Linked DNA regions of Homo sapiens: all the other regions are linked to region 1. Evidence: fine-mapped expression QTL. A gene starts in region 1. Each other region holds a variant in brackets. All regions are shown on one strand. Distances are between the middles of the regions. Region 1 holds the start of BDKRB2 (bradykinin receptor B2). Region 2 has its middle 37 kb from the start of BDKRB2. Region 3 has its middle 1.5 kb from the start of BDKRB1.

Evidence for each region. PIP is the estimated chance that this variant, and not a neighbour inherited with it, causes the effect.
Region 2: its variant is the best candidate, but not a certain one, in a credible set for the expression of BDKRB2 in fibroblasts (GTEx, PIP 0.53).
Region 3: its variant is the best candidate, but not a certain one, in a credible set for the expression of BDKRB2 in esophagus mucosa (GTEx, PIP 0.76).

Annotation. Positions count from the first base shown.
Region 1 is chr14:96,203,295-96,206,137 of GRCh38, forward strand. It overlaps BDKRB2 (bradykinin receptor B2), which reads left to right and starts at 1,545. Exons shown (of 3, transcript NM_001379692.1): 1 at 1,545-1,665. RefSeq lists an enhancer at 1,006-1,881.
Region 2 is chr14:96,166,908-96,169,750 of GRCh38, forward strand. No RefSeq gene overlaps it. Among named protein-coding and RNA genes, the nearest start is that of BDKRB2, 37 kb to the right of the region's middle. The variant C/CA (reference allele first, on the strand shown) is at 1,543.
Region 3 is chr14:96,253,493-96,255,992 of GRCh38, forward strand. No RefSeq gene overlaps it. Among named protein-coding and RNA genes, the nearest start is that of BDKRB1, 1.5 kb to the right of the region's middle. RefSeq lists an enhancer at 1-213. The variant G/T (reference allele first, on the strand shown) is at 1,525.

The sequences.
Region 1 (2,843 bases):
AGGCCATCAGGGCAGGTGGCTAGTGGCCCAGAGTGTGAGAACCTGGTAAGAGAAAGGGCCAGAATGTGAACTTAATCAGCTGCTCATGAACTGGCTGGCCTCCAGCCAGGACCTCAAAACTGGTTTAAAGTAGCCTTTTTAAAAAACTATATGACAGAGATGGATGGAGATGTGTGCAGATGGACAGATGTCTTTTAGAGATTTCTGTCAATGATATTTACAGAAGCATCAACATTGGATTCAGATCCTTGAGGATTTTCAACTCATAGATACAGAGCTCTACAATATCTAAGTTGGAAGAGACTTCAGAGGGTCTCTGGACGCTCATGCAGGTCTCAATATGTTGTGGATCTCAGAGCTCTTCAATATTTTAGTGAAAGCTATAGATGAGGCTCCATAGGGGATAAAGCACAGACACACCTTTTCAGAGGGCTTGTGGACTCTGGGCAGCCTGTCCATAGACCTCTGTCCCCAACTGGCAAGTCAGGAAACTCCAGATTAAGGAGCCCCAATGTGGTTGAACAGCCAGGTGCACAGATGAGTCAACCACACAGCCAGGCCAGGGAGGGCCTTCACTCAAGAGCCTACAGCCAGTTCACAGCCAAGCCAGGGCTAGCGCCCAGGCCACCCATAAACTGATCTGAGACTCTGTTTCCCTGTCTCCATGATGATGGGATCAGGCTTGATTGCTGGTTTGTAGGCTTGTTATGAATCAAGTCACAGGGAAGAGGAGCTGATGGGCTGGGGGGACGTCCTCTGGCCCTCCTGTCTCTTCCCCAGATCCACTGGGCCCACTCTTATCTGTTCTCTTCTGAAGGAAGGGTTTTAAGGCTTCAAAAAAAAATGTTTTGAAAGTCCCTGCCCTTTCCAGCTCCTACCGTCTCAGCCCTGGGAGTGTAAAGTGCTGCAGATAGTTAGTAAGTCTTTGAGCAAAACTGAGAAAGCCAGCCTGAGCCTTGACATGGGAGAAACCTCCGCCATACATCTCCGAAGAAACGGCCGCGTGTCTCAGGGGAGCGCAAACACCCGTACCCAGGAAACAGGACAGCTTCTGCCACTGTCGCCCTTGGGAGCCGTACGTGGCATACAAAGAAATCCCAGGACTCCGCCTGCCCACCTGGCCACCCTCTGTTTACACCTTCCGCGTAAACGCCCACTGTTTACATCCAAAACTCAGACACAAAATAACCACCTCAAGAAGATAAATAATGATAAGAAATAAATGTTACGCGAGGCAAATTTATTCACATGGGGCTTCCCAGGCCACTTTGTGGTCAGCCGGGAGGGACGTTTTTGCCGTCCCACGACTCCAACGGGCAGCCGGGCTACGCAAACATGGAAATCTTCCAAGAGCCTCCCTGGCCCCCAGGGCTCAGAGGGTGGCAGAGCGGAGAGCGAAGGTGGCCGCAGCCTTCCCGGCCCCACAGCCAGCCTGGCTCCAGCTGGGCAGGAGTGCAGAGCTCAGCTGGAGGCGGAGGGGGAAGTGCCCAGGAGGCTGATGACATCACTACCCAGCCCTTGAAAGATGAGCTGTTCCCGCCGCCACTCCAGCTCTGGCTTCTGGGCTCCGAGGAGGGGTGGGGACGGTGGGGACGGTGGGGACATCAGGCTGCCCCGCAGTACCAGGGAGCGACTGAAGTGCCCATGCCGCTTGCTCCGGAGAAGGTGGGTGCCGGGCAGGGGCTGCTCCAGCCGCCTCACCTCTGCTGGGAGGACAAACTGTCCCAGCACAGAGGGAGGGAGGGAGGGCAGGCAGCGGGGAGAAGTTTCCCTGTGGTCGTGGGGAGTTGGGAAAAGTTCCCTTCCTTCCGGAGGGGAGGTCTGACAGGCGATGGGGAGAAGGGTTCCCAGCAGGAGGAATCGCCCTGTTTGTCTGTTGTAGGTTTCTCTTCTCTGAATCAAGGTGACAGACAGGCTTGTGTGTGTCCAGTGTGTGAGGGATTTCGTGATTGGATTTTCACATACTTTGAGTGGACACCTTGGAGTAAGGCAGCGAGGTGTGTGTGGTGCAGCAGGGACGGGTGCTGGGTGGAGGCTCCAGAACCTGGCTTTTCACCCACAGCTGTGCCACTCCTTGGCCCTGTGTGACCCTGGACAAGCTATTCAACCTCTCTGAGCCTCAGTTTCTCTGTCTGCAAAGCAGCCAGCTCGCTGGCTCCCTGGGGGTGGCAGGGTTAAATCAGAAGCAGGCGGGGGTGGGGGGGTTTGTGAATGTTGGCTGATGCGCCTCCAGGAGGCAGGTGGTAGTGACTACCTCAGATGGGCTTAGAGACCCTCTTCCCACGGTCCTGGCTGACCAGGGCAGGGGGATAGGATGGTGCAGGGGTTCCAAGCACCGGCTTTGCATCCGGCCCAGGTTGCAGCTCCAGCCCTGCTCTCACCCTGTGGGTGACGTTTTTGGGCGAGTTATTTTGTCCTGTCTCCTGAGCTATAAAGAAGACCTGGAAGTTCCTCTTTATGCAAAGATAGAGGTAGGCTCTTGCCTGTGAAGCACCACGTATGTCATAGGCACTAAATAAATGGCAGCCGTGATTCGAGTTGCTGAGAGTAGGTCGTTTCCGCAGCCTGGGTGGAGGTGAACAGCAGGTGTTGCTGTTCCAGGCAGGTCAGAATGTGCCTCACTGAGTCACAGGCCGCCTGTGGCTCCCCAGCCTACAGGAAGTGGGAGCCCTGGCCTGGGTGTGGGGTGATGGGGGCCTCCCTGGCCAACCCCGCCCCTAATTCCATTTCTGAGTTGGAGAAGGGCTTAGGTGGTGGGGGAACAGGTAAGCAACCCCAGAGGACATTGCAAAGAGGCCCTGCCCGAGGTTCTCTGGAGAAAAAACTGTGCTGCGTCCTTCGGG
Region 2 (2,843 bases), 36 kb before region 1:
TGCAAGAGTCAGGGAAATCTCTGCTGACTGCAGGCCCACGTCATGAAAGTCTCTCTATCACACATGCCCACACACCTGGCCACCCCCTAGTGCCAGGTCAGAGTCCCTCTGTGAGTGCCCACTTGCATTGTGCCTATGACTGCCACTGGGCCACCCACCACACCATGTCATCATGGCCAGTTCACTTCCCTGCCTCCCTGTTCAGTCTCTGGGATCCTCAAGGCCAGGTACTGCATGCTAATCATCTCAGACACCCCACCACCTCGCTCAAGCCTCAACAAAAATTGGCGTTGGGTGGAAGAGAACTGGATGGACACTTCTGGAGTCTGACATTGTGCCAGGCTCTGAGGGTACAAGTTGACTAAGACCTGCAGCCTGCTCACAGGGTGCTCAAGGGCTCAGTGAGATGGGTGTTCTAAGAGGCAGTGAGGTCCTCATCCCTGGAGGTAGGGAGGTGGGCTGGGCCCCAGCTTGGCAGGAAACTGAGAAGGGTGATCAAGCTCCCATGGGTGAGGGTCTAGATGGTTTCAGTGTCCCTCTGGCCCTTGGATTCCCTGACTTCTGAGATCTTGGTCCTGTAAGACACTGGCTCCAAAACATTCAGCTGCCTCTCCACAGTCTTCCAGTTGCTAATGAGCAGTCCATGACCAGAGGGAGGTAAACAAGAGCTGAGTCACCCTGTGGAATCCCCGAGTAGAAGTCACCTCCCTTCTTAATAGCCATTATAAACACATTACCAGCAGCTCTGTTTATTTGCTGTTTGGAGTTTATGTAGCTGCACGGAATGTAATATGGAGGATGAGCTACAAACATCTGACCACCCCACATTTAGCCATCTTTGTGTCTGGTCTGTATGTCATTCCACATTCAACATCCTTGTGCTGGCCAAGAAGAAGAGGTGGGCGGGCTACTGCCAGCCCCACCAGGGGAGCCCTCATGGGCCTCACCATCAACTAAATGGTGTCCTCATCTCATGGGAAGCTGAAGGACCCTTTGGGCTGAACCCCGGGGAGCCACAGTTTTCAGCACCTGTCTCATGCTGTTTTCTCTGATCTTCGACTGCCATCAATCCCTCAGCAAGGCTGGGTTCCTCTCTCCTGGCACTACAAAAATAAATCCATGGCCGGGGGCGGTGGCTCATGCCTATAATCCCAGCACTTTGGGAGGCCGAGGTAGGTGGATCACCTGAGGTCAGGAGTTCAAGACCAGCCTGACTAACATGGAGAAACCCCATCTCTACTAAAAATACAAAATTAGCTGGGCGTGGTGGCGCATGCCTGTAATCCCAGCTATTCTGGAGGCTGAGATGGGAGAATCACTTGAACCAGGAGGCAGAGTTTGCAGTGAGCCAAGTTCGCATCATTGCACTCCAGCCTGGGCAACAAGAATGAAACTCCATCTCAAAAAAAAAAAAAAAAAAAAAAGATCAGCCAGGCACGGTGGCTCATGCTCGTAATCCCAGCACTTTGGGAGACCGAGCTAGGTGGATCATGAGGTCAGATCGAGACCATCCTTGTAAAACCCTGTCTCTACTAAAAAATA[C/CA]AAAAAATTAGCCAGGTGTGGTGCACGCACCTGTAGTCCCAGCTACTCAGGAGGCTGAGGCAGGAGAATCGCTTGAAACAGGAGGCGGAGGTTGCAGTGAGCCAAGATCATGCCACTGCGCTCCAGCCTGGGTGACAGAGCAAGACTCCATCTCAAAAAAAAAAAAAATCCGTAAATTGCTGGGGACCCATAGCATGTATCAGATGAACTTGTTGTTTCTGGTTTTCTCAAAAATTGAGCTTTAAAATTCCATTTCACAGATCAGGAAGCAGAGACCAAGTAGGGTAAAGGATTTTCCTAGGGCCCCAGTTGGCCACAGGCCATCCCGGCTCTAGGTGGCAGGCTCTTTTCCTGCCACTCTGATCCTTCCAAACCTGTTACCCTTCCAGGGTTCCGAATTTTAGCTGATAGCATCAACCTCCACATGGTCTTCATCCCCACTGTATGTGGTAGAATTGGCTTGAACTCCATGCGTCAGAAATCCAGCTCCAGTGGCTTAACCAAGGAGGGATCTCTGTGTTATGTGGCAAAATATCTGGAGGTAGGCAGTCTGGAGCTTTGCACCTGTGTGAGAAAGCCACTAAGAGCTCAGCTTCCTCATTATATCCTGTTCCACCCTCCTTACCTCAAAACTCTCTTCCTCATGATCACAAGAGAGATGCTCTACCTCCAGACATTGCAACAACTTTCCAAGCAGGAAGAAAGGTTTATGTCACCTGAATTTTTCCCTTTTATATAGGAAACAGCAGCTTTGCCTGGTGGATTTCTGTTTACGTTGCATCGTCACAACTGGGCTACTTGACCACCTTTAATTGCAAGGCACCTAGGAAGGTGAGCAGTAACTAATCACATTGCTTCCCTGAACAAAGCTGAGTTTCTGCTGGGAAGAAAGAGAAGAATGGATATTGGATCAGCAATCAGCTGCCTGTGCCTGCCACACCCACTTCCTACATTTACCCAGCCTCTGAGTCCCATGCAGTCTAACTACTCAGTTTCTTGAAATCCACTTTTCTTTTTCTTGCCAAGATTATGCCCCAGTGCAGCCCCCTCTAACCCTGCTGTCTGCGAGGCACAGTGGGGTGACTGGCTGCTGTCCACTCCCACCCTGCCACTATCAATCTTTCCAAAGCACAGAGCATGTGGCTTCCCTGTTCTCAAATCCGCAGTTCCTCTCCATTGCTTATTAAAGACATCCAGATTCCTCAAGCTGACACTGACGTCCCTTTACACTCCAGCCCTAACCTAATTCTTCCCTTGCCTCCTAGAACTCCCGATGTCCAGCCACCCCACTATCTCCCAAT
Region 3 (2,500 bases), 50 kb after region 1:
CAGGAGATTGGTTTACAGTCCTTTGTTGCAGACTTGTATGTACGTTGCATGAGTTTCTAAACCCTGTGATGGGAAGAAAGGTGTGACCGCCAACAGCCTTGGTCGGGGGTGAAAGGACACGAGCTGGACCACAGTGAGGGTGCTGCATTTCATCCTGGCAAGAATTCTGCCCAGCTGTGGCTTTCTGTCCTCCGTCTACAATTGGGAGAATACTGGAGACATCAGATGTCGTGTAAGGACTAAGAACGAACCCTGGAGAGGCTCAGCATCTGGGTGCTATTTGTAGAGGTCTGCTGGGTGACATGTACTAGAGTCTTTCATTTTGAAGAACCTGCTGGATATGACTAGAAAAGTAAAGGAGAAAAAAACTCCAGGACTGATGGATGAGAGAACTGAAAAGTGGCCCTTGATGTCACAGTGGGCACTGGGACTGCATGTCCCCAGGGGCTGCAAACTCCAGAGCTCACCTTCCCTTGAATACACATCCAGTATGGCCCAAGCCCACGCATACTACAGGGAGTCCAGCCTGCCTGGAGTGCCCCCTCACTAGTATTTAGGACACCCCAGGGAAGGTTGGCCTGTCCTCTATTTCCAGAGGCAGGCCTTTATCCTCTGTGACCACCTCTTCACCCAAGTACCCAGGGGACTTCATCAAGCACAGCACACATCAGACTGTAAGGTTTAACCAAACCTTATAGAGGCTGTGGGAATTACAAACAACTAAATTCAGAAAAGGCAAGCATTGGCCGGGCACGGTGTCTCACGCCTGTAATCCCAGCACTTTGGGAGGCCAAGGTGGGTGGATCACCTGAGGTCGGGAGTTTGAGACCAGCCTAACCAACATGGAGAAACCCCGTCTCTACTAAAAATACAAAATTAGCTGGGTGTGGTGGTGTGTGCCTGTAATCCCAGCTACTCGGGAGGCTGAGGCAGGAGAATCGCTTGAACCCAGGAGGCGAAGGTTGCAGTGAGCCGAGATCGCTCCATTGCACTCCAGCCTGAGCAACAAGAGCGAAACTCAGTCTCAAAAAAAAAAGAAAAAAGGCAAGCGAAGCCTCAGAAGAGGGTCCTCAGTGCCTACCCACTTCTTAGTCCCCTGCTATCTTCTGCCACACTATAGGGACCTGCTTTTCTTTCACAGATTTGGGGTCCCCTCCCCCTGCCCTCAGCCCCACTCCCTTGGCCCCAGAGACAGTAGGAGACCCTCTGCTCCCCTGAGCCCGGGCCTGTCTCGCATTTCCCGTGGAGATGAGCAACAAGGGGAAACGTGGGTCTTCTTAAAGAACTTTCCTTTCCGCCCTCCACCACCTTGGCAAGGCAGCCAGATGCATCTCCGAAGTCCAGCTCACTCAGGCCAGCTCTCTTCACAGACTGTCTTCCAGCAAGAGGCAAAGCAGAGATGAGACCTGCACGTGCTCTTTGTGGCAGAGCTGGCCTTATACGCACTCCTGGGTGAATAAACAGGGAGACATCTCCTAAGAACAAACGCTTCTCAGAAACAGTATAGTCTAAACTCATACTGAA[G/T]GGAGAATAAGCCAGCCACGGGCTGGAGAGACCCCCGCCTACATTACTAAGTAACAGGAAAGGCTAAGATTTGGAGCCTTCCTCCGGTTCAGATCTATCCCGGGAGTAATGGAAGATGCTTGCCTGTTGACAATTTTTTTTTATTAAAAATCCCACCCAGGAGGTCTCTCCTGATAGGAGGGGACCATCCTATCCTCTAAGGCAAATTCCAGCTTCTTCCCTGAAATGTACATCCGCTACTGAGCCTCAGAATGCTATTTGTTCCACCTACTTCCACAGTTTTAAGGTCTTCAGCAACAGGAGAAGACAGCAGGAAAACTTGAAGTGCAGTTGGCTCCCGCTGAGATGTCACTAGCAGAAAAAGGGAACACAAGCAAAAGGCAAGATTCTAAAGACAGAGGTGACACCTTCTGCTCCAAACATTTGGAGGGTCACCTTTCCAGAAGTCAGACTCGAAGTCCTGAATTCTGGCATGAATGAGTTCTCCTACGTGTAGGGGGTGGCCTGGAAAGATCTTAATTTGTAAGTTGACAGGTAAGGGGCCTTCAGTTGGAGAATCTTGTCACCTGATTCTCAAAGCCAAAAATATCTTACTGTCTGAAACATGAGGTCTTGAGTAGTTCAACTTGACCCATGCAGACATAATTTGAGAGACGCCAAGGAGGATTAGGAAAAAATGTATCTGGTCTTACTCAACTCTGAACATTGCATGAGTCAAACGTTTTCCTAGCTCTCTGTTTGTGTGATGGGTCCACTCTGATGGATTCTTGGCGATGTATCTTTCATGACCAAAATTCAAAAGAGGCCATTCGAAGTGGCTCCCACAAAAGCTGCTGCAGAGCCCCAGACATTCAGAAGCCAATAGTGAAGGGGCCAAAAGCCATCCCTCAATGTTCACTGACACTTTGCGAGCCTTGGGGCAAGTTGGCGATGTCAAAACATGTTTTTAGGGCGTGTTTGCCAACATACAGGTCTT